Regions from separate parts of the Homo sapiens genome. Here all the other regions are linked to region 2. Evidence: fine-mapped expression QTL. A gene starts in region 2. Each other region holds a variant in brackets. All regions are shown on one strand. Distances are from middle to middle.

Region 1 (9,987 bases), 37 kb after region 2:
AACCTATAGGATCTGATGCAATCTCCAGGTAGATACTGTCAGAATTTGTTTATTTATTTAGTTTTTTTATTGTTATGATTATTTGAGATGGGGTCTTGCTCTGTTGCCGAGGCTGGAATGCAGTGGTGAGACCCTAGCTCACTGCAGCCTGGAACTCCTGGGCTCAAGCAATCCTACTTCAGTCTCCTGAGCAGCTGGGACTACAGGCATGCACCATCGTGCTCAGCTACTTATTTCATTCTTGTAGAGACAGAGTCTTGCTATGTTGCCCAGACTGGTCTCCAGTTCCTGGGCTCAAGCAATTCCCTCCCACCTCTGCCTCCCAACGCTGGGATTACCAAGGCATGAGCCACTGTGCCTGGCTGAAGTCGGAATTAAATTGGGTTCAAGGACACCTAACTGGTGCCCACTAAAACATTGGTTGCTTGCTTGCTTGCTGATAGGGAGAAATCCTCACATGTTTGGTCACAGATGTCTTCTGTGTTCATTGTTGTGTTGTGAGATCAGAGGAAAAACAGTTGTTTTTTTTCTACATCAGAGGACACAAATATTCAGACCATAGCAGCTGTGGCAGGAATTTGCTGTTCTATTCCAGCCAACACCTGAAGACTGGTCCAGGCTCTTCCTTTCCTAGAGCATTTACTGAAACCAGCTCACAACTGGGAATGCTTCCTTTGGCGTGTTGAGATGTCCATGTGTCTCCTACAATCTAGCAGTGGCTCCTCGAGGAACCCAGAGCCATTCCTTTGAAACCAGGAGGGAGAAGGCCTTAGTCTCTGCCAGAAGGTAGAATCCTGACTTTGGGCCTGGCTGACTAGCAGACACAGATGGTCTCATCTGATTGGCACGGAGCCCCCGCTCACCCCATCTCCTTCCCTTTAAGACACCCCGCCACCCCTACACAAATTACAATGGAGGCGACTCTGTACTGACTGCAGCTGGCACTGAATGGAAATCTGTTTTCACTGCTTTAATGTCCAGCTTTATCTTTGCGTTAACTGAAAAAATCACAGGATCTATAAATTGGAAAAGCAGATTTCACTTCTTGTAGAGGGTTACAGCCTGCAAAGTGGCCATCCCTCGGGCAGGGAAGCACAGCCTTGGCCAAACCCAGTGCCTGGGCCAAGCCCAGGCACTTTGGGGGAGGGAGGAGTTGGGGCAGGAGCTCTGTGCTTGTTTGGCTTTGCCAAACACACATATTCCACAGCCTACGGGAGGACTATGGAGATCCATGAGGGTAGCCTTCACACATGTTCACGGAACACACATGCACATGACATGTGATGCATGCTTACCTTGAGGTGGAGGCTTCACATGTAAATGTATTCCAATTAGGTCTTTCCAGGACTCAAAGGTGCTCAAGTGCACAGCGTCTGTAAACTGGCCAGGACTAGCCCAAGGTCGTGGTCTCTCATCAGCAGAAAGCTCTTGAAGTCAGTGTCTTGTCCAGTGAATGCTGCCATCATGGCTGGTGGAGCAGGGGGTCGGAGAGTCAGCCTCTGTGAGCTGGGTAAGCTGCAATTGTCTTAATGTTGCTTAGCTGGAGGCCAGTGCTTGGTTAGCTGCTGGAGTAAAAGAAAACCCTTGCAGCAGTGAAAACATGGTTTATTCTTTAAGTGTAGGGTGCTGACTTAACCCTTAGGTCTTGTTTATAATTTGTCACCTTATTGCCACAAAGACTCCATCCTGTGTCTGTGTTTTTTTAAAAAATTCTCTTAACCTCACCTGGACTGTCTCTATGTTAACATGAATGCTGTCAGTTGTGTCTAAACCTCAACAGAAAGGGGTATAATGAGATGTGTCTGACTCCCACCCTATCATGGCCAGAAACTCAGTTTTTAAGGTTCTATGGGGTCCCTTTTACCAACAGAGTGTCTGTGCAGTTGGTTAGGGGTGCTTAGGATTTTATTTTTAGTTTACAGTCTCTAAATCAGGAGACACAGACCGGCTGGCCTATTTGTAGATATGCCAATTAGCATCCAGTGAAGGCTGGCCCCGGGTTTATGTGAAATGAGGAGGGTGAAACCCCAACCTGCAAGACCCTGGGCCCAAATTGCAGTAGCAACAATGCCAAAGTTGCAGCATTTTTCACAAAACAACTCTCACCTATTATTTTCCTTGAATTTCTTGTCATAGCAAGTGCGGAAGATTCACCAGAACCATCAGGCAGAACCACACATTTGTTTTCAGAAATGTCTTTCCTTTCTTTCCACAATGTTGCTTTGGCTTAAATGTTTGTGTCAGAGACGTGTGAACCAGAGCAACTCCATCTTGAATAGGGGCTGGGTAAAATAAGGCTGAGACCTGCTGGGCTGCATTCCCAGGAGATTAAGGAGGTTAAGGCATTCTAAGTCACAGGATGAGACAGGAGGTTAGCACAAGATACAGGTCATAAAGACGCTGCTCATAAAACAGGTTGCAGTAAACAAGCTGCCCCAAACCCACCAAAACCAAGATGGCGATGAGAGTGACCTCTGGTCATCCTCACCACTACACTCCCACCAGTGCTATGACAGTTTACAAATGCCATGGCAACATCCAGAAGTTACCCTATATGGTCTAAAAAGAGGAGAAACCCTCAGCTCTGGGAATTGCCCACACCTTTCCTGGGAGACTCATGAATAATCCCCACCTTATTTAGCATATAATCAAGAAATAAACATAAAAATGGGCAACCAGCGCACCATGCCACTGCTCTGCCTATGGATTAGTCATTTTTTATTCCTTTACTTTCTTAATAAACTTGCTTTCACTTTATGGATTTGCCTCAAATTCTTTCTTGCACCAGATCCAAGAACCCTTTTTTGGGGTTTGGACTGGGACCCCTTTCGGGTAACATTTGTGTCCCCAGCCCAAACTCATCTGTGGAAGCCCCAACCCTCAATGTGAGGATGGCATAGGAGGTGGGGCCTTGGGGAGATAATTAGGTCATCAAGGTGGAGCCCTCACTGATGGGATTAGGGCCACTGTAAAATGGACTCCAGAGAGCTGCCTCACCCCTTCCATCACATGAGGTTGCAACCACAAGACTGCACTCTACAGCCCAGAAGAGGACCCTCACCAGACCCCAGCCCTGCTGACACCTTCATCTTGAACTTTCAGCCTCCAGACTGTGATCAAAAATTCTATTGTCTACAAATTGCTCAGTCTCTGGTGTTTTGTCATAGCAGCTTGAAGTGACTGAGACAAATGTCCTCACTTGAGGATGAGGCATCAGCATTATCATGGAAGGACTACCAATGATCATGGTGACTTTTTTTCTTCTTTATTTCTTTAAACTGACAAAAATTGTATATATGGTGTACAAGGTACTGTTTTGAAATATGTATTGTGTTGGGAATATGGATTGGGGAATGGCTAAATCAAGCTAATTAACATAGACATTACCTCACATATTTATTTGTGGTGAGAACACCTAAAATCTACTCTCTTAGCAATTTTCATGTACTACATTGCTGTGAATTATAGTCATTGTGTTGTACATTAGATGTCTTGAACTGACTCCTCCTGTGTCAGCGTGCCCTAGCCCCCTCCTGTGCCCTTTAGTCAGCGTCTCTGGCCCCCAGATCCTGGTGACCATCATTCCACTCTCTGCTTTATGATATCAACCTCTTTAGATTCCGCATAGAAGTGAGATTATGCAGTGTTTGTCTTTCCATATCTGGCTAATTTCACTTAACGTAATGTTCTCATTTCACCCCTGTTGTCACAAATGAGGGAATTTCATTATGTTTTAAGGCCGGAATAGTATTTCATTGTACATATGTACCATATTTTCTTTACTCATTCATCCGACAATGGATACTTAGGTTAACTCCATGTCTTGGTTATTGTAAATGGTGCTGCAGTGAACATGGTGCAGATCTCTCTTCTGGATACGGATTTCATTTCCTTTAGATATATCCCCAGCAGTGGGGTTGCTATATCGTTTGGGAATTCTATTTTGAATTTAATAATGTTTTCCATAATAACTGTACTATCACGGTGATTTTGAAGATCAATATATCTCCACAGGGTAGACAGCTACACCATCATTAAAAAAAGAGAACAGTGGCCGGGCGTGGTGGCTCATGCCTGTAATCCCAGCACTTTGGGAGGCCAAGGCGGGCAGATCACAAGGTCAGGGATTCGAGACCAGCCCGGCCAACATGGTGAAACCCCATCTCTACTAAAGATACAAAAAATTAGCCAGGCATGGTGACGCAGCGCCTGTACTCCCAGCTACTTGGGAGGCTGAGGCAGGAGAATCGCTTGAACCCAGGAGGCAGAGGTTGCAGTGAGCCGAGATCGCACCATTGCACTCCAGCCTGGGGGACAGGGTGAGACTCCATCTAAAAAAAAAAGAGAACAGTGAAAATGAGAGACAAAAGTAGCTGATTCCCAGCTTCAATTTTGTCTATAATACTAATTTTCATGAAGAGCAACATAAACTCCTTGGAGTGCAGTTAAGTCCATATCTGGAGTCAAAAAAACAAAAATTCAAAACAAAACAAAACACCCATGATAGGTCTGAAATAACTTTTTGCTGTCAGAAAGCAAAGATGAGCCGGGTGCCAGTGGCTCACACCTGTAATCCCAGCACTTTGGGAGGCCGAGGTTAGAGTTCAAGGCCATCCTGGGCAATATAGGGAGAACCTGCCTACAAAACAAAACAAAACAAAAACAAAAACAAACAAACAAAAAAAACCAAAAACACGCACACACACACAAAACAAAAAACCAATTAGGCGCTGTGGTACTCACCTGTAGTACCAGCTACTTGGGAGGCTGAGGCGGGAGGATTGCTTGAGCCAGGAGTTTTGAAGCCACAGTGAGCCTGATTAGGCGGCAGAGCTAGACCCCGTCTCAGCAAAACAAAAACAAAACAAAAACAAAAGCAAAGGTGCTTCCAACAATCAGGGTGATCCTAAAATGACAGAGCAGCGTTTTGAAAATACCTCCCCGGGGCTGCAATGTGACCATTTGAGCACTAAAAACAACCATACAAATGGTTAATTAGAACATGCCCCATTTATAAAAGGAGGAAAGTTAACATACACGTTTCTAATAAGACAACAAAAGGATGGAAATAACATTGTGTTGAATTTTTGTTGATTTTGTTAAAAAGGAGCGCGTTGACACATAGGGGGATTTTGTTTCTTTAAGTTCATGTCTGTTTATATAAAGTTTAGGTCTGGGTGTGTGTGTGTACCTGTGTAAGCAGGAAAGAGTAAACAAAATCGAGAGCCCGGGACAAATGCACTTAAGAAGGGGCGACGGGAGGGCCAGGCTCGCCGGGCTGAGTGCTGAGGAGGGGGCGCGTCCCACCCATGCAAGCCCGGAACAAAGGCGCCTGTCACTCGTCACTCTCCACGCGGGCTGGCTCTGGAAAGCCCAAAGGAAAAAACCCTCACTTTCAGGAAGAATAAGCCTCAGCCCATGTATCTAGGGAACACGTGATGCTGCAAGAAACCAGTGACTTAACGCGTGTAAAAGCAGGAGAGCGTCAGAGGTTCTGACCCCGGGGGAGGAGCAGACCCGCGGCAGCGTGCGGAGACTTAGCGGGCGGAATCTGCCACCAACGCAACCTGGCCCAGAGGTTTTGAACTGACCAACTGGGAGACGTCCCCGAGCTTGAATAAGGGCCTCAAAAGCTTAGCGTTTTATGCAGAGTCGCAACCACCCAGCGCTGGGAACCTGAGCCTGCACAACCCACTAGAAAGCACCCGTGACCGTCCCCTGCGCCCGTTATCCCTGCGCCCCGCACCCCTGTATCCCCGGCTTCTCTGCAGCTGTACACCCTGCACTGCGGCGCCCCCCAGTCCCGCTGTCCGCTCCATCGCGCAGGTCTCCAAAACGAATCCCGGCTTGGAGGGGCTCAGCGGCCCTGGGCCTGTGCGCCGTTGCGGCCGGGAGGGTCATTTTCATGCCTAAGG[ACCCG/A]CCCCTTGCACGCAACCTCGGGTAGCCAGCCGGAAACGGCGTCCCGGGCTCCAAAGGACATCTCTTTTTACATTTCAGCAAAACAGCCGCACACCTTCTCCCCAGATGGCCTCTGTGCAGCCTGAAAATGCCCGCTCCCTCCAAGTCCCTGGGCAATTGCTGGGACGCATCTCAGAGACTGCGCGGGGCGGAGAAGGGGTATGTGTTTGGGCCACTAATTTGATTTTCTTGGAAACTTTCTTCCAGTCCAAACCGGAGTCAGCTCCTCTCACCCTTGTAGAAAAGCATCCCGTGGGGGCGGGGCGGGGTGGGTTGGGGCCCAGCGTTGGGGGGTTGGGGGGGCGGTCAACACACCACCCTCCCGCCCTTTGTTAAGCTATTGAAGTTCAATTTCATTCCTTCTCCGTCTTCCATTGACCAGAGAGGAAAGGAATCCTTTGAATTTTTTTTTTAAGTTCATCAAATATCCATTTAGCATCTACTATGTGCCAGGCATAGCTGTTAGTACTTGGGGTGAACGCATCAGATGAAAACATGCCTCCCTGGAGCTTGCAATTTAGTGGAGGAGGAGGTGAGAGTAAACGTGAGGTGATGGCACGGTGTTGGAGGGGTGTTCACTATAGGCAGAGGGCGCCAGGAGGCCGGTGGTCGCGTAGGACAGGGAAGGCTGCAGTTGGAGAGCAAACCTGGAGGAGCAGCCGCGGTAAGGCCCAGAGTGCGAAGACGCCGCGTCTAAGGGCAGCAGAGGGGACCTGGAACTGGAGGGTTGGAAGAAGGGTGGTCACAGGCAAGCAGAAGGGGGCCTCAGAAAGACTGGACCTTGTTTTGAGTTTTTGGAGGAACCTCCGTCCTATTTTCCGTGATGGCTGCACCAGTTTACATTCCCCTCAACAGCGTGCGAAGGGTCCCTTTTCTCCACATCGTGACCAACACTTGTTGTCTCTTGTCTTTTTGATATTAGCCATTCTAACAGGTGTTCGGAGACATTTCATTCTGATTCTGATTTGCATTTTCCTGAATTTTATTTATTTATTTATTTTTTGCGACAGGGTCTCCCTCTGTGGCCCAGGCTGGAGTGCAGTGGTGCAATCTCGGCTCACTGCAACCTAGACTTCCCGGGCTCGAGGGATACTCCCGCCTCAGCCTCTGGACTAGATGGGACCTCAGGAACGACCACGCCCCGCTGATTTTTAAAAATTTTTTGTACAGACGGAGTCTTCCTATGTTGCCCAGGCTGGTCTCCAAAGCCTGGGCTCTAGCAATCCTCCCACCTTAGGCTCTGGGATTAGAGGCATGAGCCACCCTACCGACCCTCCTAGATTAGTAATGTTGAACACCTATTCATATGCCTGTTGGCCATATGTATGCCTTCTTGGGAGAAATGCCTATTTAGGTCCTTTGTCTATTTTTAAAGTTAGGTTATTTGGTTCTTGTTTTGGTTTTGTTTTTTGCTAATAAGTTGTAGGAGCTCTTATATATTTTGGGTATTAACCCCTTACCAGATGTTTGGTTTGCAAATGTTTTCACCCATCCATAGGTTGCCTTTTAATTTTGTTGATCCAGCCATCTCACTTCTGAGTATGCCCAATGGAAATAAAATCACTGTCATAAAGAGATACTTGCACTCCCATGTTAATTACAGCACTATTCATAATAGCTGAGATACAGAAACAACCTAAATGTCCATCAGTGAATGAATAAAGAAAACGTGGTATAGATATTAGTGTTACATGCTATACTACACTATAATAATGAAAATTATTCAGGTCTAAAAAAGAAGGAAACCATGTCAACAACATGGATGAACCCAGAGGACATTATGCTAAGTGAAATAAGCCAGGCACAGAAAGACAAATAATACTGCATGAGCCAACTTATATATGGAATCTAAAAAAGTCAGGGGCTGGGTGAGGAGGAGTACAAAGCTTCAGCTATAAGATAAGTAGTTCTGGAGACCTGAAGCACAGCATGGAGACTCTGGTTAATAACATATCATGGACATAAAATTTACTGAGTAGATCTTACATGTTGTCACCGCACACACAGACACATGCACACACACACAGGTAACCACATGAGGTGATGTGTGTGTTAATTGATTTGACTGTGGTAATCATTTCACCACGTGACATGTACCAAGACATCATGCTGTGCACCTTGAATATGTACGAGCTTTATTTGTAGATCATACTGTCAGAGGCATTTGAGTTAGAGCAACTCCATCTTGAATAGGGGCTGGGTAAAATAAGGCTGAGACCTGCTGGACTGCATTCCCAGGAGGTTAGGCATTCTAAGTTACAGGATGAGATAGGAGGTCGGCACAAGATATAGGTCACAAAGACCTTGCTAATGAAACAGCACGCGGTAAAGAAGGCAGCCAAATCCCACCAAAACCAAGATGGCGACTAATGTGACCTCTGGTCGTCCTCACTGCTCATTATAATACATTAATTATCATTAATTATAAGTAAAAGATACTCCCAACAGCATCATGACAATTTACAAATGCCATGGAAACATCAGGAAGTTACCCTATATGGTCTATAAAGGGAAGGAACCCTCAGGTCCAAGAATTGCTCACCCCTTTCCTGGGAAACGCATGAATAATTCACCCCTTGTTTAGCATATAATCAAGAAATGACCATAAAAGTGGCCAACCAGTAGCCCTCAGAGCTGCTCTGCCTATGGAGTAGCCATTCTTTTATCCCTTCACTTTCTTCCTTTTTTTTTTAATGGTGAAAATATATGCATATATTTAGAATTAGCCAGCTGGACTCAGTTTAGATGATCCCAATTTTGTTGGTAACATCCAAAGCACTGTAATCAGGAGCCAGTTGAACATATGCTCTCCATCAGGCTGATCAGGGTGTTGACCTTGGCCACATTAATGTCACAGAGCTTCTTCACAGCCTGTTTGATCTGGTGCTTCTTGGCTTTAACATCCACAGTGATCACAAGTGTGTTGCTGTCTTCTATCTTCTTCATGGCAGACTCAGTGGTTAGTGGAAACTTGATGATAGCACAGTGGTCAAGCTTGTTGGGGACAATTTGCCCAGGATATTTGGGCTGCCTCCGGAGTCACAGTGTCTTGGGCCACCAGAAGGTGGGTGACATGCGGATCTTCTTTTTTTGTGTGTGGCTATGGACACCTTTCAACACTGCCTTCTTGGCCTTCAAAGCCTTTGCTTTGGCTTCGGCTTTAGGAAGGGCAGGAGTTTCCTTCTTCGCTTTCAGTGCCATCTTGTGAAAAGCTCCTTTACTTTCTTAATAAACTTGCTTTCACTTTATGGATTTGCCCTGAATTCTTTCTTGTATGAGATCCAAGAACCCTCTCTTGGGGTCTGGATCGAGACCCCTTTCCGGTAACAGTACCTCAATAAAGCTGGGAAAAAATAAAAAGGGACCAGTAAAGCATTCTCAACAACAAAGAGCGTGGGGCTTTTCTTTGTAGGGCCCTGTGAGGCCTCTGGGGGTTTTCCAAGAAGCAAGGGCTTTGAGACTGTGTGGGTAAAGCTCCTGGGGCTGGAAATGTGATAGTTTTATAACTGTGATGATAGGGCCAGGCACAATGGCTCATGCCTGTAATTGGGAGGCCAAGGCGGGAGGAATGCATGAGCACAGGTGTTGGAGACCAGCCTGGGCAATATGGTGAAACCACTGTCTCTACAAAATACAAAAAACTACCCAGGTTTGGGGAGCCTGCCTGTAGTCCCAGCTACTCAGGAGGCTGAGGTGGGAGGATTGCTTGAGGTTGAGACAGCAGTGAGCTGTGATTGTTGCCACTGCACTGCACTCCAGTCTCGGCAACAAATTGAGACGCTGTCTCGAAAAAAAAAATGTGATGATGGCAAGTCTATCATGCACAAGCATGCTGCCCCGCACACCTTCAGGGACGGTCCCACTGGTTGTAGTGATCCACTGTGCAGGTGTCCTTGAGAATGCAGCCAGGCGGGGTTTCTCCTGCCTTCCCAGAGCTCGGCTTGTGGCGGGAGTGACGTGACAGTCACCCACTCAGTGCCACGAAGGGAGGTAAAGTGGTGATTGGATGGAAAGCAGTGTGTCTGGGCT
Region 2 (9,987 bases):
CATGTCCAACTGCTTTACTGTCTCTGCCTAGGCTCAGCTCTCACGTGAGCTACAAGAACCCCAAATGGCGGTCCCTGTCCCCAGGCCTCTCTCCTCACTGCTGCCGACCTGTTCCAGAAAACTCAGGCCTGGCCCCTGTGACCCCAACCCCACCTCAAACACTTGGCCCAGTGCCTCTCACTTCTCCCTCAATGCCTCAGTCCCTACGGGACATTTTCAGTTTTCTTTTTTTGAGACGGAGTCTCGCTTTGTCCCCCAAGCTGGAGTGCAGTGGCACGATCTCGGCTCACTGCAACCTCTGCCTCCTGTGTTCAAGTGATTCTTCTGCCTCAGCCCCCTGAGTAGCTGGGATTACAGGTGCCCATCACCACACCCAGCTAATTTTTGTATTTTTTGTACAGATGGGATTTCACCATGTTGGCCAGGGTGGTCTCAAACTCCTGACCTCAGGTGATCCGCCCACCTCGGCCTCCCAAATTGCTGGGATTACAGGCGTGAGCCACCACACCTGGCCAACGTTTTCAGTTTTCAACACTAAGGTTACAAACAGCATTTGATCAGATGGAATGGGCTGTAAAGCAGCACAACATACCCAGCATGGCAAAGATCTTGCATTTCAGGTACCTGCATCTTTGTGTCTCTGGCCAGATCAGAACAGAAACCTCTTACCCTGCGTGTAGTCAGAACTGGGATGCTGGGGCTTGGTGCAGGCCTGGGATCTTCCCTGGCCTCCTCCTTCCTGTGGCAAACCCCCTCCCCACACAAGTGCCATCTGACACACAACCCAGAGAGATCTGGGGGCCATCTTCTCTCTCCCATGGTGCTGCTTCCTGGAACTGGAGCTTACTGGGACTTCCCTGTTTACCACCTCGGGGCAACCCAGCCTGGGGCTTGTTCAGCTGTCATGACCCCAGGTCAGGGCCAGGCAAGGAGTGAACCTGTCATGGAGCTAATGGGCCCCAGCTCTGGCAAGTGGACACACAGCCCCATAGGTGGGACTGAGCTTTCTAGGCCCATGGGGGCAGGTAAAAGCAGTTTGCTGTGGTTAACATAACCTAGGCTCTAAGGCAGTGAAGAACAGGATGTCATCCCCAAATATACCGCTGTGGTACAAGAATTATTCTGAGTAAAAGCAGATGCAGGAAGAGCTCTCTGTACTCCTATCTGCCTAAAAGTAGGGTATTCATTCCCCATGAGAAAGGCACCCTCTCTCTACCAGGAAGAGGAGGGCACTCTAATCCTGGGAGATGATTCTGCCTAAACAGACCTTACTACAATGACCATTATCTTGTGTTAATTCTTCCCATCTATTTCCTAGTCACTTTCCCACAATTTATCAGTCCTAGACGCCCAATCCCATTTCTGTGTCCAGTCACTTCTCCACAATTCACAAACCTTTGCTGAAATACGCTTTTCTATGAAGTTCTTGTGCATGTGAAACTTAAAATATTAATCAAATTGTATGATTTTTTTTCCTGTTAATTTGTCTTGTGCCAGTTTAATTTGCAGCCCTGAGCCACTGAACCTAACAGGGTAGAGGGAAATTTTTTTCTTCACCTGCAAAAGAAAGGGTTAAGTGCTATCCCATGAAACTATATCGAGTCAACTCTATAGAGCTATTGGGCACTCTCTGCACCCATTGGGGTAATTGGTGTCACAAGGGTAATTCTGCTGGGCTAACATGTTTCAGGTGTAGACATTCCTGCATGGGCAAAGAAAAGAAAACCCAAATGAATCTGTGTCTGAACAAGCCCACGGATATGGCTCTAAACCACCTTTCTGCTAAAATCCAAAGCAGAAGGGGACAGATTCAGATTTATTCTAGTATCCCAGAAGTTTGCTCTGTGATAGGGACAGATCAAGCTCAGTACTGATTCTAACACTGCCTTAACTGCTCATCTGGCACACACAAGTGACCATGATGCAACACACAAAGTGCAATCAAGAAAGCTCCAAAGATGCTGCCATCTGCCCCACACGTAGGCTCCCAGGAGCACACCTGCAGCAGGTCAGCGAGGAAAGAGGACAGCGGGAGGGAGCGCAGGCCAGGGAACGTGTGCCCCAGGCCCTTCAGCTCGGGTTTTATTTGGGTTTTAAGCAGCAAGACAAGGGGAGAAAAGGCAGGCTGAGCCCTGGCATCTCAGATGGCAGAGATGGCTCCCAGTACCCCACCCAGAAATGCAGGGCAGCCCTGGAGGGGAGGTTAGAGAGGAAACGACTGTGTCCCCCTCATCCTGCCCAGTCTGGGGCTTTCCCAGGACTTAAGTACTGACCTGCTAACACAGTCCCTGCAGGGAGTCCATCTAGGATCGGCCACCTCTGAGGTTCTCCCACTTTCCTCTGATTCCAGCTCCTTGCTGGCCAGGGTATGGCCACATTTTCCTTGCCCCCACTCCACCACCTTCCACCTTCCACCTTCCTCTCTTAGCCTCTATCTATGAGAGGTACGCCCCTCACCCCCGAGAGCAGGGTCTCATTGGCGGCCATGGTCCCAGCCTCAAGGGGCCTGGTTGAAACAGGCTGTGTCATGAGCCCCCACAGCCACCCTGCGCGACACCCCCCTCACAGGCCCACAGCAGGCTGCATCCTGAGCTCCCCGCCCTAGACAGAGACAGATTACTCCCGGAGCAGTCCCCCAAACCTCCCACCCGCCCAGGCCTCCCCAGTCCCCGGCTCCCCGACGCCCCTGCACGCCACCCCCGCCCAGGAGCACCTTGAGGTCTTCGGCCGCGTCCTGCAGCGGCCGCACGCGGTGCGCCCAGTGCTCCCCAGAGCGCTCGCAGGCCGCACACAGGAGGCGCAGCTCGTCGCCACAGAAGGCGGCCAGTGGCTCGCGGTGCGCGGGGCACACGCCCTGCGGGACCGGCGACGGCGGGTGCAGGCGCCGCGCCATCTCGGCCATCTTAGCAAGCGGGCGGTTGGGCCGCAGGTTCCTCTGCGGGGACAGCTCGCGGCACTCGGGGCACGCGTACGGGCCCTCGGGCTGGCCCCAGCAGCGCCGGATGCACTCGCGGCAGAAGTTGTGGCCGCAGTCGGTCATCACCGGATCCGTGAAGTAGTCGAGGCAGATGGCGCAGGTGGCCTCCTCCTGGAGGTTGGTGGACAGGTCGGGGGCGGCCATGGCGCGGACAGAGGGGAGGAAGGCGGTACTGTCCGCGGGGCGGCGGCGGGCGGCCTCGGCAGCTCGCGGGGACGCGGGGTATCCGGGTGCGGCGGCGCAGGCTCGGGCACTCCGGGGCGCGAGGCTCGGGACTCCCGGGTGCTCGGGCTCCGGGGCGCGGGGACTCCAGGGCGCAGGACTCTGGGTTTCGGTAGCGCTGGGCGCGTAGGCTCCGAGCGCTCGGGGGACGCGGGACGTAGGGATCCCGGATGCCGGCAGGAAGAGGAGCCGAGGCGGAAGCAGGAAGCGACTGGGTGGGTTTTGTGTGTTTTTTTTTTTTTTTTTTTTTTTTTTTTTTTTTTTTTGGAACAACCCGCTTTTGCCTCCGATTGGCCGCTGCCAGTCACGCGGCCCGCGGGCGGGACGGAATTGGAGAGCTTTCACTTGCTGACCTGGCGTCACCACCGCTCCGGTTCTTGTGGCCAGGTCTTTTACCCCTGCCCTGGGGAGGACTCAGGCGCAGGGGAGGGATGGGGACAGGGGGCGGGGCGCAGGGGAGGGATGGGGACAGGGGGCGGGGCGCAGGGGAGGGATGGAGCAGGGGGCAGGGCAAGGAGGGATGGGGACTCAGGGCGGGGCACACGGAAGCAACTGCAAGGACTAAGGGAGTCCGCAGCCTGGGGCATTGGAGCCCTTCGCCATACCCCTAGTGCGTCCTCACCCCCTCAGCCCGTGCTTCCCAGGGCGGGTATCCTCGGAAGGCCCGGCCCTCACAGCCTTGGCAGGCCAAGGTCAGAATGATTGGAGTTGGGGGATGGGACGGGGGCATCCCTCCAGGACCAGCTCTCCAGGAGGCCCACATTCTTTCTGCGGGAACCACTCCAAAGGGGCATGCTGTTCCAGGCAGCCCCTCGCGCAGACACTCCGGCTTTGTCGAGGTAGGAGTACGCTTACTCTGGAATTCTGCCTTGCTAGTGACTGACACAGGCTGTTAAAGTGCTTGACCCTGCAGGGGTGGGTGGGGGGTTCCTTGGAAAAGGTAAGGGCGCTGTGGAAAAGAGGCCCCTACATAAATCCTAATCTCTTTGGGATTTTGCCCCTGCTCGTGCAACTTTGGGGATCGAACGGGATGGGGGTGGGCAGCTCTGAGGCTTTTTACGGGTTCAGCCTTTCCCATTTTCCCCCATCGAAGGACCCAATAGGATGCATAGGACATTTCTATGGGCAGCCTGGGACCATCCCTGACACAGCAACCACCCCCGCTCCTCCCCACCATAGGATATTTCTACTTCTTTGACAGAGTAACCTAAACCCCTGGGGGGGCTGGGAGCCACAGATTCCTGTCATTCCAAAGTGGGGGTGGGGGCATGGCTAAAAAAAACGTGACCACGCTGTTCCTGGTGTGTAGGTATGGATTTAGAAATCGGTCCACTCAGAACGCAGGGGCTTTCAAAAGTTTCCTCTAGGAAGCATCTGTCAGTATACCCTCTTAATGTTTGACAGTTCTAATCACAATTATATTTAGAATTTGAGAAACCCCCCTGTGTGTCTAATGGCTGCCAGCGTGATGCCAGAGAACCCTGGCAGGTGGCCTGCAGTAAGCAGAAGGCCCACACCTTCTGCAGAGCCAGGAGCAGTGCCCGAGTCCCCCGGTCTGTGTCTATCCTTTCACCCACATGGTCACTGTGGAGATGACCATCTGACCAGACTTCGGAGCCCCCAGGCAGAAGAAAGGCTGCAGGGGGCCTGGGAAGGTGGCCTGGGAGTAGGTGTGCAGGTGGGACCCATCGCTTACACTGTAGAAGGACACTTCCCCGGCTTCGAAGTCCAGGAAGATGCCCATGTGGCTGGGAGGCTCCATCAGCATGACCGGGGTTAGGGCAGAGAAGGTGGATAAGTACTTGGTCCCCTTGGACAGCTGCACCACCCAGAAGCCGTTTTCGGGGCACTTGGGGACCCTGTCTTTCCGGCTCACGTTGTCCCTGCACACACCCAGGGCCCACAACGCGTCCCCGGTGATGTTCATGCCCACCTCCCAGTAGTGCCTCCCAGAGGAGAAGGCCGTCTGGCCCACAGCACAGGGGTAAGCCACAAATCGGTCCTTGCTGCAGAACCCACTGCCCTCCGGCGAAGAGCCGAGGTAGCGCCTCTGGCGGCTCTCATACAGGAGGAGGTAGGGGTACGCGGAGGTGGCATCAGGCACCACATCCTCTGTAGATGGGCGTGGTGGTGGAGAGATGGGGAGAGGTGTGGGGCATTCAGGGTCAAAGGTGGGAGTCCCCGGGCCCTAGTGGTGGATGTGGCCAATGGTCCCCTAACTCCGCAGAGGCCTCCCCTGCTGTGAATCTGGGGTTACTTGATGCTTCCACACACCAATTGTGTGTGGGCCTTGGTGGCAATAAGGTACAGGGGGCTGGGCAGAGAGACCACTGGGAACTCAACAAGATTCATCCCATGAATTAGAACCACCAGTAACGCCGCCCTACGAAGGCACAGTGAATAGCCAGTGACCGTCACCAGGCAGTGCACTTGTAGAACCCCCCCCATTGGTGGCTTCCGAGGCTAGGGGGTACAGTGGGGCATCGCCAAGAGATCCTGGGTCAGAGGTCCTGGCCCTGGGTGCCCACTTACCTAGAAAGCCTCTTAGCACTTCAATCTGTCCGGGAACTCTGCACACAGTCCTGGGTCTGGTTGGGGGGGCAACCTCTGGGCACTGCACACTCACGTTGTTCTTCCTCCGGTGGGCACACACAGGGGAGTCTTATTGACTCCCCTGGCCCGACAGTCTTATTGTCCCCCCCGCCCACCGCTGCCACTGCCCCCGCCCCTGCCTGAGGGGACCACATACCTGCTCAGGGGTTCCTTCATGTCCTGCAAAAGACAGGGACGGAGGGTGGGGAGTGAGCCAAGCTCCTGGCTCACCTCAATGTCCCTGCTCCCTTCTTGTCCGTGTCTTAGGGCAAGACCCATCCTGTCCCCTGGGCATTCCCTTCCCACAATTGAGCTTCATGGCACTCCTGAGCCTTCCCCACTGCCCTAGCTCCCACTACCACCAGAGCCCCCAGTGCCTCACCTAAGCTGAGCTACCCTGTCAGCCCACGGCCACACGCCTGAGGTCCTGCAACTCAGGAGAGGCGGAGGGACCCCTTCCAGGCAAGTGGCCACTCAACACTGACCCTCCTCTCCCATTTCAGGTGGGTGCAGCCCACTCAGCAGGAATGGGGTGGGGGCGCAATTGGGTGCAGTTTGGGGAGGGAGGGGGGTGGGTAAGAGACTGAGGCACCTGGGGATTTTCTGTAGCCTCTTTAGGGATTCAGAGTTCCCTAAAGAGATCACTGTTTACTTCTCTGGCCTGGAAGCTACAAGGGACTTGTTTTCCAAAGGCCATATTTCTAGTTGCCAGAGCGTGACCCTAACTCTAGGCAGGGACTCTCATGCAGGTGGCGCGCTTGGCCCTCTGCTCATAGGAGCACCCTTCTACCAGCTGCAGGGGCTTTTCCCTCAGTTGGTCAGCAAACCAATGTAGTGGGTTGTGAACAGGCTGCTTTGTTTTTCCTTTTCCTTTTTTTTTTTTTTCCTAGATGTGATCTCACCATCACCCAGGGTGGAGTGCAGTGGCGCAATAGCTCACTACAGCCTTGAACTCACGGGCTCAAGCAGTCTTCCTGCCTCAGCCTCCTGAGTCCTGGGACCACAGGCGCACGCCACCATGCCCTGCTAATATTTTTAAGTTTTTGTAGAGATGGCGTCTTATCAGCCGTAATCAAGCCCCCTCTCCAGGGCCATGGCACACAGGCTGGTCCCGGCAGACAGGCTGGCTGCTTCACCTCCCCACTGCCGTTGCCACACAACTCACTCCTGGGACAGTGCACCTCCTCCACACCGAGACATGGAGTCCCTGTCCCAAAGCCACACCTGGCTGCCAGGTGTCCCAAGCCACCTCTCTGGACTTGGAAGGAAATGGGGACACTGTCTCAGGTTGGAACCTGTAAGGGGCTGACTTGTGTCCCCACTAATTCACAGGTTGAAGCCTGAACCCTCAGGACCTCAGAATGTGACTGTGTTTGGAGATAGCATCTTTAAGGAGGGAGTTGAGGTCACTGGGGTGGGCCCTAATCCAGTCTGACTGGTGTCTTTATACAAGGAGATGATTAGGACAGAGACGTGCATAGAGAGATGATGCCATGAGGACGCGGGGAGGAGACGGCATCTTCAGGCCTAGGAGAGAGGCTCAGGAGGAACCAGGCCTGCCCGCACCTTGGCCTCAGCCACCCAGCCTCCAGGACTAGCAGACTGGGAGCTAACAGCCCTTTCCCGTTGGCTGCCTCTTCCCCAAGCCCAGCGCCCCCTGCCCATGCCTGTCAGAGCTCACATCCCACCCTGCCTGCCAAGCCTACTGGCTCACCTGCAGCATCTGGAGGGGCCCCTGTGTGCTCCGCTCCTCCAGCTGCAGCAGCAGCAGCTCCAGAGAGTGACCCTGCCGGTCCAGGCAGGCCACGCTCTCCCGGAGCCTGCTGGCAGTCTCCTCTTCTTCCGTCTCCAGAGCCTGGAGGAGCCTCTGCTCTTCTTCCACCAGGTAGAGGTTCATCTTCTCAAACTCCAGCACAATGCGTTCTCTCCGCTCCTTCACCTTGCCCTGCAGGAGTGGAGAAGCCCAGCATGTTGCCAGCAGGTGGCTCAGCTCCAGGGATGCTGGCACCTCTCCCCAGGGCCCTGGTGACCCACAAGATCACCAGCAACTGGAGCTTTAGTTGGGGACCAGGAACTGTGACAGAGGCCCCCACCTCTGCCATCCTGTGATACACTGAGTGTAACCCTCCGAGCCCCGAACTGCAACTTCTACACATCCAAACACCCATGCACCCTTGCTCTGAGGAGGTTCAGAATGTCCACCCCCAGATAAGCCTCTTGGGCATGTTAAACAAAATTTATGGGTGGCCATTGTTTTTTGTTTTGTTTTGTTTGAGACAGGGTCTCGCTCAGTTGCCCAGGCTGGAATGCAGTGGCACTTATTGCAACCTTGACCTCCTGGGCTCAAGTCATCTGAGTAGCTGGGACCACAGGCATGCACCACCACATCCAGCTAGTTTTTAAATTTTGTGTAGGGACAGGGTCTTGCTCTGTTGCCCAGGCTGGAGTGCAATGGCACAACCACAACTCACTGCAACTTTGACCTCCTGGCCTCAAGTGACCCTCCCACCTCAGCCTTCCAAGGAAGTGGGACGACAGACATGTGTCACCACCACCATGCCCAGCTAATTTTTAATTTTTTTGTAGAGACAGGGTCTTGCTATGTTGCCCAGGCTGGGGTTCAGTGGCATGATCATGGTTCACTGCTGTCTCAGACTCCTGGGCTCAGGTGATCCTCAGGGGCCACTGTTTTGAACTGGGCTCCTGCGCTGGGTCCTAGAAGACCAGACCCAACCAGAATGGAGTCACTGGTGCTAATGAAACCAAGGGGTTCACTGATCAGGTCAGCCTGCCCTGATTGCTTTTTGTTATTTTGTTTTTCCTTTTTCCATGAAGCTGAAGGCTGTGCCTCTGAATGCTGACGCCCACCCTTCACTGGCTCTTTATAGATAATATTCACAGGTCACCATGGGACTGGTCGCTTCAGGAATGTGGGGCAGCTCCTGTCCAGCTGAAACCAGTTGAGACCATCTGCCCTTCAAGTGGACCTGTCCCAGTGCCCGAGGTGGCCTTTTGATGTGAGAGGGCCAAAACTTCCAACCTCAGATCATGCTAAGGCTGCCGTTTCTGGTACCTGTGTCCTGTGAAATGCCATGCACCCCGACGACACCTGCACAGAATGGGCCTGCTGGACCACCCTGCCTCCGTAGTTCATAAAGACTCCCAAGCTGTATCACTTGGGAGGCAGGTTTAAGAGCTGTTCTCCCTCCTCTTCACTCAGTGGCCTTGCAAATAAATCTTTTCTCTTAGCTGGGTGCAGTGGCTAACGCCTGTAATCCCAGTGCTTTGGGAGGCTGAGGCGGGAAGATAGTTTGAGCTCAGGAGTTCAAGGCCAGCCTGGGCAATAGCAAGACCTTGTCTCTACAAAAAAAAAAAAAAAAAAAAAAAAAAAAGCTGGTCTTGGTGGCAAGTGCCTGTAGTCCCAGCTACTCAGGAGGTTGAAGCAGGAGGATCACTTGAGTCCAGGAATTTGAGGCTGCAGTGAGCTATGATTGCATCACTGTGCTCCAGCCTGGGCCACAGAGCGACTCTGACTCAAGAAAAAAACAAAAAATAACAACAAAGATCTCTAAATCTGTTTTAATTTTGTGTTTTGACAGGCATTAGGATTAAGGTTAACTAAAGGCCATTGAGAACCCGCAGAAGCAGGAAAACCTGTTTGCCTCCCCCATTAGCTGCCTAAAAAAATAAAGTGCCTGGCCTGGCGCGATGACTTATGCCTGTAATCCCAGCACTTTGGGAGGCCGAGGCAGGCAGATCACCTGAGGTCAGGAGTTCAAGACCAGCCTGACCAACATGGTGAAACCCCATCTCTACTAAAAGTACAAAAGTTAGTCGGGCATGGTGGTGGGCACCTATAGTCCCAGCTGCTTGGGAGGCTGAGGCAGAAGAATTGCTTGAACCCGGGAGGCAGAGGTTGCAGTGAACTGACACCGCACCATTGGATTCCAGCCTGGGCAACAAGAGTGAAACTCCATCTCAAAAAAAAAAAAAAAAAAAATTAAAAAGTGCCCTTTCATGAAGGAATTTCCAGTGGTCAAGGCATCTATACCAGAAAGAGAGTTCCAAAAACAACTCTTCACCTGAGACACTTGTTTAAATACTTAACCAACATCACCTGCCTCCCCAGCCCAGAGGCCCCCAAGCCCTATTCCTTTGTGGTGCTGACCTACGCCCCTGCCCTCTGGCTGCCTCCT
Region 3 (9,987 bases), 280 kb after region 2:
CAAGAGGTGAAGAGGTTTTAAGCTCTTGAGAACACAGGCTAAGGGAGAAGAAGGAGAAATGGAGGGTGGAAGGTTGCCCATAGTAAAGGAGGCAAGTTTAAAGAGAAGGGTAGAGACACGGAGAAGCGGGGTGGGGAGCAGTCCTGGGCTGCAATGTGGGTGAGCAGCCAAAGCAGGTGTCCCCACAATTGACTTGCCACCAAGGGAATGTGGGTGAATGACCAAGGCAGGCATCCCCGTGGTGATCAGACACCAATGGGGTGTGGGTGAATAATCAAGCAGGCACACCCTGCAATGATTAAACACCAAGGGTAGGCTGTCTTCCTAAGTTGGTGACTGGCGCCAGAGTTTTGGGTCCATGGATAAAATGTGTCTCGTTTGTCTCTATTAGAGAGGAAAAATAACTGGACTTGGAAGGACAGGGAGATTGAAGGGTAGGGAGAGAGGCTGGAGAAGAGAGTGAAAAGACTGTTTACCCGATTTGAAATTGGTGAGATATTCCTTGGGCTGGTTGGTCTGAGGACCTGACGTCATAGGTGGATCTCTTCACGGAGTGAGGGTGAGGACAGGGGACTGGTCTCCCGAAGGAGTCCCTCTGACCCGGGTCTTCAGCACCAAATGTCTCATGCTTCTGTGTGAAGAGACCACCAAACAGGCTTTGTGTGAGCAACAAGGCTGTTTATTTCACCTGGGTGTAGGTGGGCTGAGTCCAAAAAGAGAGTCAGCAAAGGGTGGTGGGATTATCATTAGTTCTTGCAGGTTTTGGGATAGGCGGTGGAGTTAGGAGCAATGTTTTCCAGGCAGGGGGTGGATCTCACAAAGTACATCTCAAGGGTGGGGAGAATTACAAAGAATCTTCTCAAGGGTGGGGGAGATTGCAAAGAAACTTCTTAAGGGTGGTGGAGATTACAAAGTACGTTGATCAGTTAGGGTGGGGCAGAAACAAATCATAATGTTGAGTAAAGAGGAAAAGGCAGATCAATAGAAACACAAATAAAAACCTCACAACATAGAAACAGAAAACCGGACCCACCACCATCCATCGTCATTGCCACTTATATAAATATCAGTAAATTTACTTGTAATTCTAAAGGGAGTATGGGAAGGGAGTTGGATGTCACTCAAATCTGACACTGAAATCTCAGATAAGACACAGAGAGGTTGAGTCAGAGCAATGGAGATGTGGGGGTGAGTGGAGTGAAGTAGCCCCATGGTGCTTTGACTTTTCTCAAAGGCAAAAGGCAGCCCCATGAGCCCCATACTGTATATCTTCTGGTTAAGCTCATTAGGAGAGGATGTTAACTGTTTCTCAACCACTAATTTCAGTAAGTGAATCAATCCTTGTTGAGTTGAATGCCCAGAAGAAATTGCCACCCTTGGGATCTGGGCTGGAGTCAACTACACCTGACAGATCTTGTACCAGTTAAGATTTTAACTCGGTTCTGAGTCACTGAAAACCCCATAGGCAGCCACTGACCTAATCATGGTTTGAAGGAGGCATTATCTGATAGCCACAGAGGCAACCGGTCCACCTGTCTTCCACCCTATTGTCTTCTGGTCACAGGACAGGCATTTCACCCCTAGCATCCTGTTTGCATTCTGGAAAGGGAGAAGGAGAAATATGAAGTTTATTTGGTGGTACTATTGTGGGAATAGCCAAATACATCGATGGAGCTTACTTAGGAGATAGGATCAGGTAGATATTGAGATTTTACATATGATATATGTGGGATAAATTATCCAATCAGTGATGTTGGAACAACAAATTTTCCATTTGGGAAATATACTAAAATGATAGAGGAAAATGTTTTTGAGTTCTTGATTTAATGAATGTCTACTTAAAGAAAAAACCCCCACAAAATCCATAAAGGAAAAAATAGACAAATTTGCTGACAGCATAATTTAAAAAATTTCTATAACAAGGACACTCTTTAACAAATTGTAATTGATGATGGCAAAATCCAAATTTTTCCAAAATATTTTTAAAGAGGTTTATTCTGAGCCAATATGAGTGATGGCAGCCAGAGTTGCACGGTTTCAGGAGGTCCTAAGAAACTGTGCGGTGGGGGTGGGCAAGATGGATTTCCCCACGTTGACATTTTGAAAAGATCCCCGTGTCTGGCTGCCTGTGCAGCATGGGAGGGAGAGGGGTCAGGGTAGGTGTGCCTCCATGAGAACCAGATCCTTAGAAGACAATTGGAATGATGGGTCAGAAACTATGGACATGGAGAAAACTGAGGATCTGTGGACTTGGAGATCATAGAATCCCAGCGTATGCCTGTGGTTGAAGACTGGTTTTTGTTTGTTTCTTTCTTTCTTTTTGAGACGGAGTCTTGCTCTGTCGCCCAGGCTGGAGTGCAGTGGCATGATCTCGGCTCACTGCAACCTCCAGCTCCCAGGTTCAAGCAATTCTCCTGCCTCAGCCTCCTGATAGCTGGGATTACAGGTGTGTGCCACCATGATGGTCTAATTTTTGTATTTTTAGTAGCGATAGGGTTTCACCCTGATGGCCAGGCTGGTCTTGAACTGCTGACCTCAGGTGATCCTCCCGCCTCAGCCTCCCACTGTGCTGAGATTACCCATGTGAGCCACTGCGCCTGGCCAGTTTGTTTTTTGAGACTAGGTCTCATGTGTCATCCAGGCTGGAGTGCAGTGGCAAGATCTGGCACATTGCAACCTCCACCTCCTGGGCTAAAGTGATCCTTCCACCGCAGCCCCCTGAGTAGCTGGGACTACAGGCGTGCACCACCATGCCCGGCTAATTTTTGTATTTTTTGTAGAAATGGTGTTTTGCCATGTTGGCCAGGCTAGTTTTGAACTCCTGGGCTCAAGTGATCCACGTGTCTCGGCCTAAGTATTGGGATTACAGGCGTGATCTACTGTGCCCTGCTGACATAACTGTTAATATTAGTCCTTTTCACTCTCAGAATCGTTCCTGTTTGGGTGCTAGATTTTGCAGCCACCCCCATAAGGCAGGAAAAAACATGCAGGCTCTGGTAATAGAGTAGTTGTGAGGGTGAGGGAGAAGGAACCACAAGGATGACTTCCAGTTTCTGGCTTGCAGACCAAAAGGGAACGTGGTGCTGTTCCAGGAAACGGTCCCGATAATAGCTCAGACCCTAAGAGAGTGTTCTTGATCTTGTGTAAGAAAGAATTCAGGACGAGTTTGTAAAGTGAAAGCAAGTTTACTAGGAAAGTGGAGGAATAAAAGAACGGCTACTCCATAGACAGAGCAGACCAGCTACTCCGAGAGCTGCTGGTTGCCTATTTCTATGGTTATTTTTTGATGATATTCTAAACAACGGGTGCATTATTTATGTCTCCCATTTTTAGGCTATATAGGGTAACTTCCTGACATTGCCATGACATTTGTAAACTGCCATGGTGCTGGTAGGAGCGTAGCAGTGAGGATGACCAGAGGTCACTCTCATTGCCATCTTGGTATTGGTGGGTTTTGGCTGGCTTCTTTACTGCAGTCTGTTCTGTCAGCAAGGTCTTTATGACCTGTATCTTGTGCTGACTTCTTATCTCATCCTGTGACTTAGAATGCCTTAAGTGTCTGGGAATGCAGCCCAGTAGGCCTCAGCCTTATTTTACCCAGCCTCTATTAAGATGGAGTTGCTCTGGTTCCAATGCCTCTGACAGTAGGAATTTGGGAATGAGTTTTAACAAATACTTGGAAACTGAAACTCAGAGTGAGAGACTAGAAAGAGAGCAAATGCTGTAAAGAGAAATGACCACAAAGGGAAATTAGGAGAAACAAAACTGGAACCAAATGGAGCACCATTCTCTGGATGGTTGATTCTGTGAAAAATTAAAATGGAAATCTATTGAGCATTTGGAGCCAGAGAATGATAGGATACTGCTCTGAGAATTTACTGGGGAATTTGAGAGTTTTAGAAGATAACTAAAGTATTCAGAGACTCATGAAATGACTGTATGTGAATATATATCTTCCTGTTAAAATTATATATAGGTTAAATGTATTTCTGTTAATCAAAATTAATCTTCTCATTGACTTACATTCTAATTGAAAAACCTCTTTGTTCTCCTTTAGTGAAACCCTTAATCAGTAGCATTTGACACTCAGAACTTTTTTGTCTACCGACTCCTTTCTCTTCAAGAGTTAATCTAGTGCAACCCTTAATTATCCCCAGAGCTATTATTAAAAGAATCTGTAAATGGAAGCATTTTTAAAGCCAAGAATCTTAGTAATTTTATTCTGATCAGAGTTTATAAGATCAGAGTTTTACACTTTGACATCTTATTATATGAAGATGAAATAAAACCATTAAGAGGAAACACAATGTAAGTTAGTGATCAGACTTTTGTATTAGTCCATTGACCCCAAAATCTGACTTGCTTATAGGGTTGTGTTATATTTGAGTTTTAGTTATAATTTTGCTACTTATTAGATTTAGAGGAATTAGTTAAATCTCCCTTATCTTCAACTTCTTCATGAATAAAATAAAAATAACTAACTCATGAGGTTTCTATGATATTTAAATGAAACAATAGCTATATAGTGATTAGTACTTTGTAGTTACTCAATGTGTTTTATTAACTAATATTATTATAATAAAGAGTTTCTGTTTGAGGAGATGAAATATTTTGGAAATAGTGGTGATAGTTGTACAACATTATGAATATAATTAATGCCATTGAATTGTATGCTTAAAATTTCTAAAATGGCAATAAAACAATAAAAATATATAAAATACAATAATTACATATTTGCAGTTTAAAACCTATTATGTTTGACAATATATTTCTGAATTTCAGTTTCAGAAATCTAGAGGAATACTCTCCTACACCATGAGACAACTGATATTTAGTGCAAGCCATGGTGAGCACTTGCCCTCTTTTAGTATTGGGTCGGTGCAAAACTCATTGCGGTTTTTGCTATGAAAAGCAATGGCTTTTTAAAGGTCTGGTCTGGCAACAGAGTCAGCTCTTAAAATGTTAAATTCCTAACTTTTAAAGCCTTGATAATCCCAACCAAAAAGCAAGGGAGAATTTTTTTTTGAGAGGGAGTCTTCCTCTGTC[T/G]CTCAGGCTGGAGTGCAGTGGCGTGATCTTGGCTCACTGCAACCTCCGCTTCCAGGGTTCAAGTGATTCTCCTGCCTCAGCCTCCCAATAGCTGGGATTACAGGTGTGTACCACCACATCTAGCTGATTTTTGTATTTTTAGTAGAGAGGGGATTTCACCATGTTGGCCAGGCTGGTCTCGAACTCCTGACCTTAGGTGATTCACCCTTCTCAGCCTCCCAAAGTGCTAGGATTACATGCGTGAGCCACCGTGCCTGGCCGGCAAGGGAGAATTTAAGGAATTATAAAAAATTATAGTGAGCTGACTAGTAGGGGATAGAGTACACAAAACTCATTTTCCACTATTTGAGTGAACAATTGTTTACTCCTCTGAAAGCACCTGTGGGCTTCACTGGCCCGCTCCACTGACCGGCACTGCCTCCACCCAGACTTGCGGGAGTGCTCACCCACCTCAGCGTGACTGTCCCTCCCCTCTGTACTCTTCTCTCTATTCCCCAGTTCCCAAGAGTTATCCCTTTCTTTTTTTTTTGGTTACCAAATTTCTTTATTTGAAGGAATGGTACAAATCAACGAACTTAAGTGGATGTTTTGGTACAACTTATAGAAAAGGTAAAGGAAACCCCAACATGCATGCACTGCCTTGAAGAACTTTGCCAAATACTTTCTTCACCAATCTCATGAGGAGAGGGAACATGCTGAGAAACTGATGAAGCTGCAGAACCAACGAGGTGGCCGAATCTTCCTTCAGGATATCAAGAAACCAGACTGTGATGACTGGGAGAGCGGGCTGAATGCGATGGAGTGTGCATTACATTTGGAAAAAAGTGTGAATCAGTCACTACTGGAACTGCACAAACTGGCCACTGACAAAAATGACCCCCATTTGTGTGACTTCATTGAGACACATTACCTGAATAAGCAGGTGAAAGCCATCAAAGAATTGGGTGAGCACGTGACCAACTTGTGCAAGATGGGAGCGCCCGAATCTGGCTCGGCGGAATACCTCTTAGACAAGCACACCCTGGGGGACAGTGATAATGAAAGCTAAGCCTCAGGCTAATTTCCACATAGCCGTGGGAGTGACTTCCCTGGTCACCAAGAGTTATCCCTTTCTAACATATTGTTCTCCCCCTCTCCCTCCTCTGCTCCATCTCCCTCCCTCTGTCCCTTCCTTCCTTCTGTCCTTCCTCCCTCCCTCCCTCCCTCCCTTCCTTCCTTTCTTCCTTCCTTTCATTTGAGTATTGTTTCCACCCCACCCTCACCCCACAAAATGTGAGCTGTACAAGAGCAAGGATTTTGTTTGTTTGTTTGTTTGTTGTTCACGGATGGGTCCCAGGTGTCTAGGACAGTGCCTGGTTAACAGTACATGCTCCATGAAGATGAGCTATTGTGACTTGGGGTTTTCTGGAACTGTAGCTGGAACCAACCCTAACCTGTTACAGCTCTCCACTCATGCCTCCCACTGCCTTTTGAAGAAGGCCATGTTGTTAATGTTGTTAAGCTGCTGTCTAAAGGACATGAACATGAATTTTTTCTCTGTAGCTGACACAGGTTTCCCCCGAATCCTTCCACTGCCTCTTTCATGTGTGAAGAACAGCAGACATTTGTGAGTTGGCAGCCTATGGACTGAGAAATGTGGACTGCAGCCATAGAATGGAGCAGATTTCCAGGGCATTTGGGTTGCAAATCTCCCATTTTGACCTCCTTAGCATCGTGCTCTATTATTTAACCCCTCCTTCCATTCCTCCCATGTCTGCCTGCTGTCACTTAAACAAGGGAGTCCACCCAGTGTGGGGAATCGTGCCTTTCCTGCAAACCTTCCTGCTGATTTGTGTTCTAGCCCAGGCTCATGAATTAGTTCTGCTGAGCCTGGCCATGGCCAGTTGTAAAGTGCTGTGTGTGCTGATACCAAAAGTTATGTACAAAACACCAAGAAGTCCCAGGATTGGTACTGCCTTTCAGTATTTGTCCAAAATGGTGCTTTTCTCTGCTTCCCTGGTCAAGCAGAATGAACAGGTCACCAGCGCAGGTAGAATTCTCTCAGTGTCACTGTGGTCCTTGCAGGTCAGCTGGATTTGTCAGTTTAGCTGAGTGTGTCCAAAGACCTCAGCCTCCCTTCTGATTTTCAAACAGAGAAACAAATATAAAGCTACATATGGGTGTGTGAGATGAGACTGGCAGCAGTAAAGGTGGCACTTTGAAGAGGCTCTAGGGAGACAGAATGGACAGTAATTTTAAAGTGACTTTGGGAAGAGGCACCACTGACCTCTCCTCCTTCTCCGCCTGAACAGTCCCTTCAGAAGCTGCTTTTCCCTCACTTCCGTCTCCCTCATCCCTGAATAACCCACACATTTGGAGCTTCTCTTCCCACTATCTTCTAGCTTTTGTAGGTTTTTTCCATCTTATTCCAACATGAGAGGCAAAGGACCCTGAGTTTGTCAGACCCAACCCTCGAAGAAGCCGAAGAGTCAAACAAAAGAGGTCATATGTAATCTGTAGTAGAAGCCAGACAATGTGAAAGGGTAAATCCAAAGGCCATTGGAACTTCTGGATCCAGATAGGGCCCAGCAAATGTGTAATAAAGTCAGCAGTGAGAAACGCGATTGGGACATGATACTTCCATGACATCAGTAGCTGTAATCAAGCTGAATCTGCCTGTTGATCCCTATGGAAACTGTCTGCTGACTGTAGTGCTGCTCTATTTTGTTGTCATTTCAGGGCTACAAATGAATATGCAATCACTTGACTACTTTGTTTTAAGCCAGGGGTCCCCAACTCCTGGGCTGCAGACAGGTGCTGGTCTGTGGTCTGTTAGCAACCAGGCTGCATAGCCGGAGGTGAGCAGTGGGTGAGCATTACCACCTGAGCTCCGCCTCCTGTCAGATCAGCAGTGATATTAGTCTCACAGGAGCTCAAACCCTATTGTGAACTGTGCATGTGAGGGATCTAGGGTGCTGGCTCTTAATGATAATCTAACTAATGCCTGATGATCTGAGATGGAACAGTTTCATACCGAAACCATCCCTACCACCCCTAGTTCGTGGAAAAATTGTCTTCCACGAAACTGGTCCCTGGCAACAAAAATGTTGGGAACCACTGTTATAAGCCATCTGTGAACCATGAAATGTTTGGGTCAGTCTCCTGAGACTGAAAATTTAATCAAAATTTCAGCAAGAACTTTCTCTTCCCACACTTTCCAGTGTGCCTGAAACCGGAATTTAAAAAAAATGTAATTGGAGCACGCAGAATCAATTCTTAACGCTGTTTCAATGTGTCCTTTCCCCCAAACAATACACTTAAGACATTTACTAAGTGTTAAAGAGCTACCTCTCTGTACTACTTGCTGTAATTTTCTTTGATCAGACTGATTTTTATTTAAAAGATTTGTTTTGTTTGTTTGTTTGTTTTTGTTTTTTAGAGCAGGAGTGAAAGTTTATTAAAAAGCTTTAGAGAAGTAAGGAAAGGAAGAAAAGGAAGGAAGGTACACTTGAAAGAGGGCCAAGTGGGCAACTTGAGAGACCAAATGCTGAAGATTAGTTTGTTTGTTTTTTTTTTTTCTCTTTGAGATGGAGTTTTGCTCTTGTTTCCCAGGCTGGAGTGCAATGGCATGATCTCGGCTCACCGCAACCTCCGCCTCCCAGGTTCAAGCAATTCTCCTGCCTCAGCCTCCTGAGTAGCTGGGATTACAGGCATGCACCACCACGCCTGGCTAATTTTGTATTTTTAGTAGAGACGGGGTTTCTCCATATTGAGGCTGGTCTCGAACTCCTGACCTCAGCTGATCCGCCCGCCTTGGCCTCCCAAAGTGCTGGGATTACAGGCGTGAGCCACCAGGCCCGGCTGTTTGGTTTTTTTTGAGATGGAGTTTTGCTCTTTTGCCCAGGCTGGAGTGCAGTGGCGTGATCTCGGCTCACTGAAACCTTTGCCTTCTGATTTCAAGCGATTCTTCTGCCTCAGTCTCCCGAGCAGCTGAGATTACAGGCGCCCACCACATAGCCTGGCTAATTTTTTTACTTTTAGTAGAGACGCGGTTTCACCATGTTGGGCAGGCTGGTCTCGAACTCTTGACCTCATGATCTGACCTCCTCGGCCTCCCAAAGTGCTGAGATTACAGGCGTGAGCCTCCGTGCATGGTGGAAGATTAGTTTTAAAAGAGTGTATCACATAGTGCTTAAGTACTGTGTTTTGTGCTTTTATGTTGTCATTAATAGTGCCTTCAAATTAGGGAGGAAACGACTTAACTCAGTTACTTGTAAAAGTTTGGTTGTGAAAGAAGCTAAATTAACTGCGAGGATTCAGCTTATAATTTTTTTTTTTTTAAATAGACTTTATTTTTCAAAACCTCTTTAGGTTCCCAGAAAATTGAACAGAAAATGCAGAGAGTTCCCATATCCTCTTTCCAGGCCTCCCTCACTATCAGCATTTCCTACAGAGTAGTACGTTTGTTACAATCAATAAATCTATATTGACACATCATTATCACCAGTCTGTAGTTTACATTAAGGTTCACTCTTAGTGTTGTACATTTTATGGGTTTTGACAAATGTGTAAGGACATGTTTCCACCACTACGGTATCACACAGAGGAGTTTCACTGGCCTAAAAGTCATCTGTGCTCCACTCACTCATCCCTCCCTCCCTCCCTCCCTCCCTCCAACTCCTGGCAACCACTGATCTTTTTATTGTTTCCATAGTTTTGTCTTTTTCAGAATAGCATATACTTGGAATCTTATAGTGTGTGGCCTTTTCAGATTGGCTTCTTTCATGCATTTAAGGTTCTTCATGTCTTGTAGAGGCTCAATAGCTTATTTCCTTTTAGTGATGAATGATATTCAGGATGTACCACAGTTTACTTATCCATTCACCTACTGAAGGACATCTTAGTAATTTCCAAGTTTTGGCAATTATGAATAAAGCTTCTATGAATATCTATGTACAGATT

Evidence for each region.
Region 1: its variant is fine-mapped to the expression of TRIM11 in whole blood (INTERVAL, PIP 0.99).
Region 3: its variant is fine-mapped to the expression of TRIM11 in whole blood (TOPMed, PIP 0.92).

The regions. Positions count from the first base shown.
Region 1 is chr1:228,440,462-228,450,448 of GRCh38, forward strand. It overlaps LOC124904538 (a long non-coding RNA gene), which reads right to left and starts at 4,571. Exons shown (of 2, transcript XR_007066919.1): 1 at 1,296-4,571. It also overlaps the pseudogene RPL23AP15. RefSeq lists a silencer at 1-212. The variant ACCCG/A (reference allele first, on the strand shown) is at 5,916.
Region 2 is chr1:228,403,441-228,413,427 of GRCh38, forward strand. It overlaps TRIM11 (tripartite motif containing 11), which reads right to left and starts at 3,395. Exons shown (of 6, transcript NM_145214.3): 1 at 2,714-3,395. The coding sequence starts at 3,121. It overlaps TRIM17 (tripartite motif containing 17), which reads right to left. Exons shown (of 7, transcript NM_016102.4): 4 at 7,506-7,736; 5 at 5,949-5,971; 6 at 5,732-5,835; 7 at 4,495-5,311. The coding sequence ends at 4,761. It overlaps LOC124904537 (a long non-coding RNA gene), which reads left to right and starts at 5,831. Exons shown (of 2, transcript XR_007066918.1): 1 at 5,831-6,294; 2 at 7,245-9,817. RefSeq lists silencers at 3,107-3,346, 3,407-3,496, 3,637-3,706 and enhancers at 4,057-4,106, 4,298-4,957.
Region 3 is chr1:228,681,734-228,691,720 of GRCh38, forward strand. It overlaps a transcript of RHOU not described here and the pseudogene FTH1P2. Among named protein-coding and RNA genes, the nearest start is that of RHOU, 49 kb to the right of the region's middle. RefSeq lists an enhancer at 184-684. The variant T/G (reference allele first, on the strand shown) is at 5,047.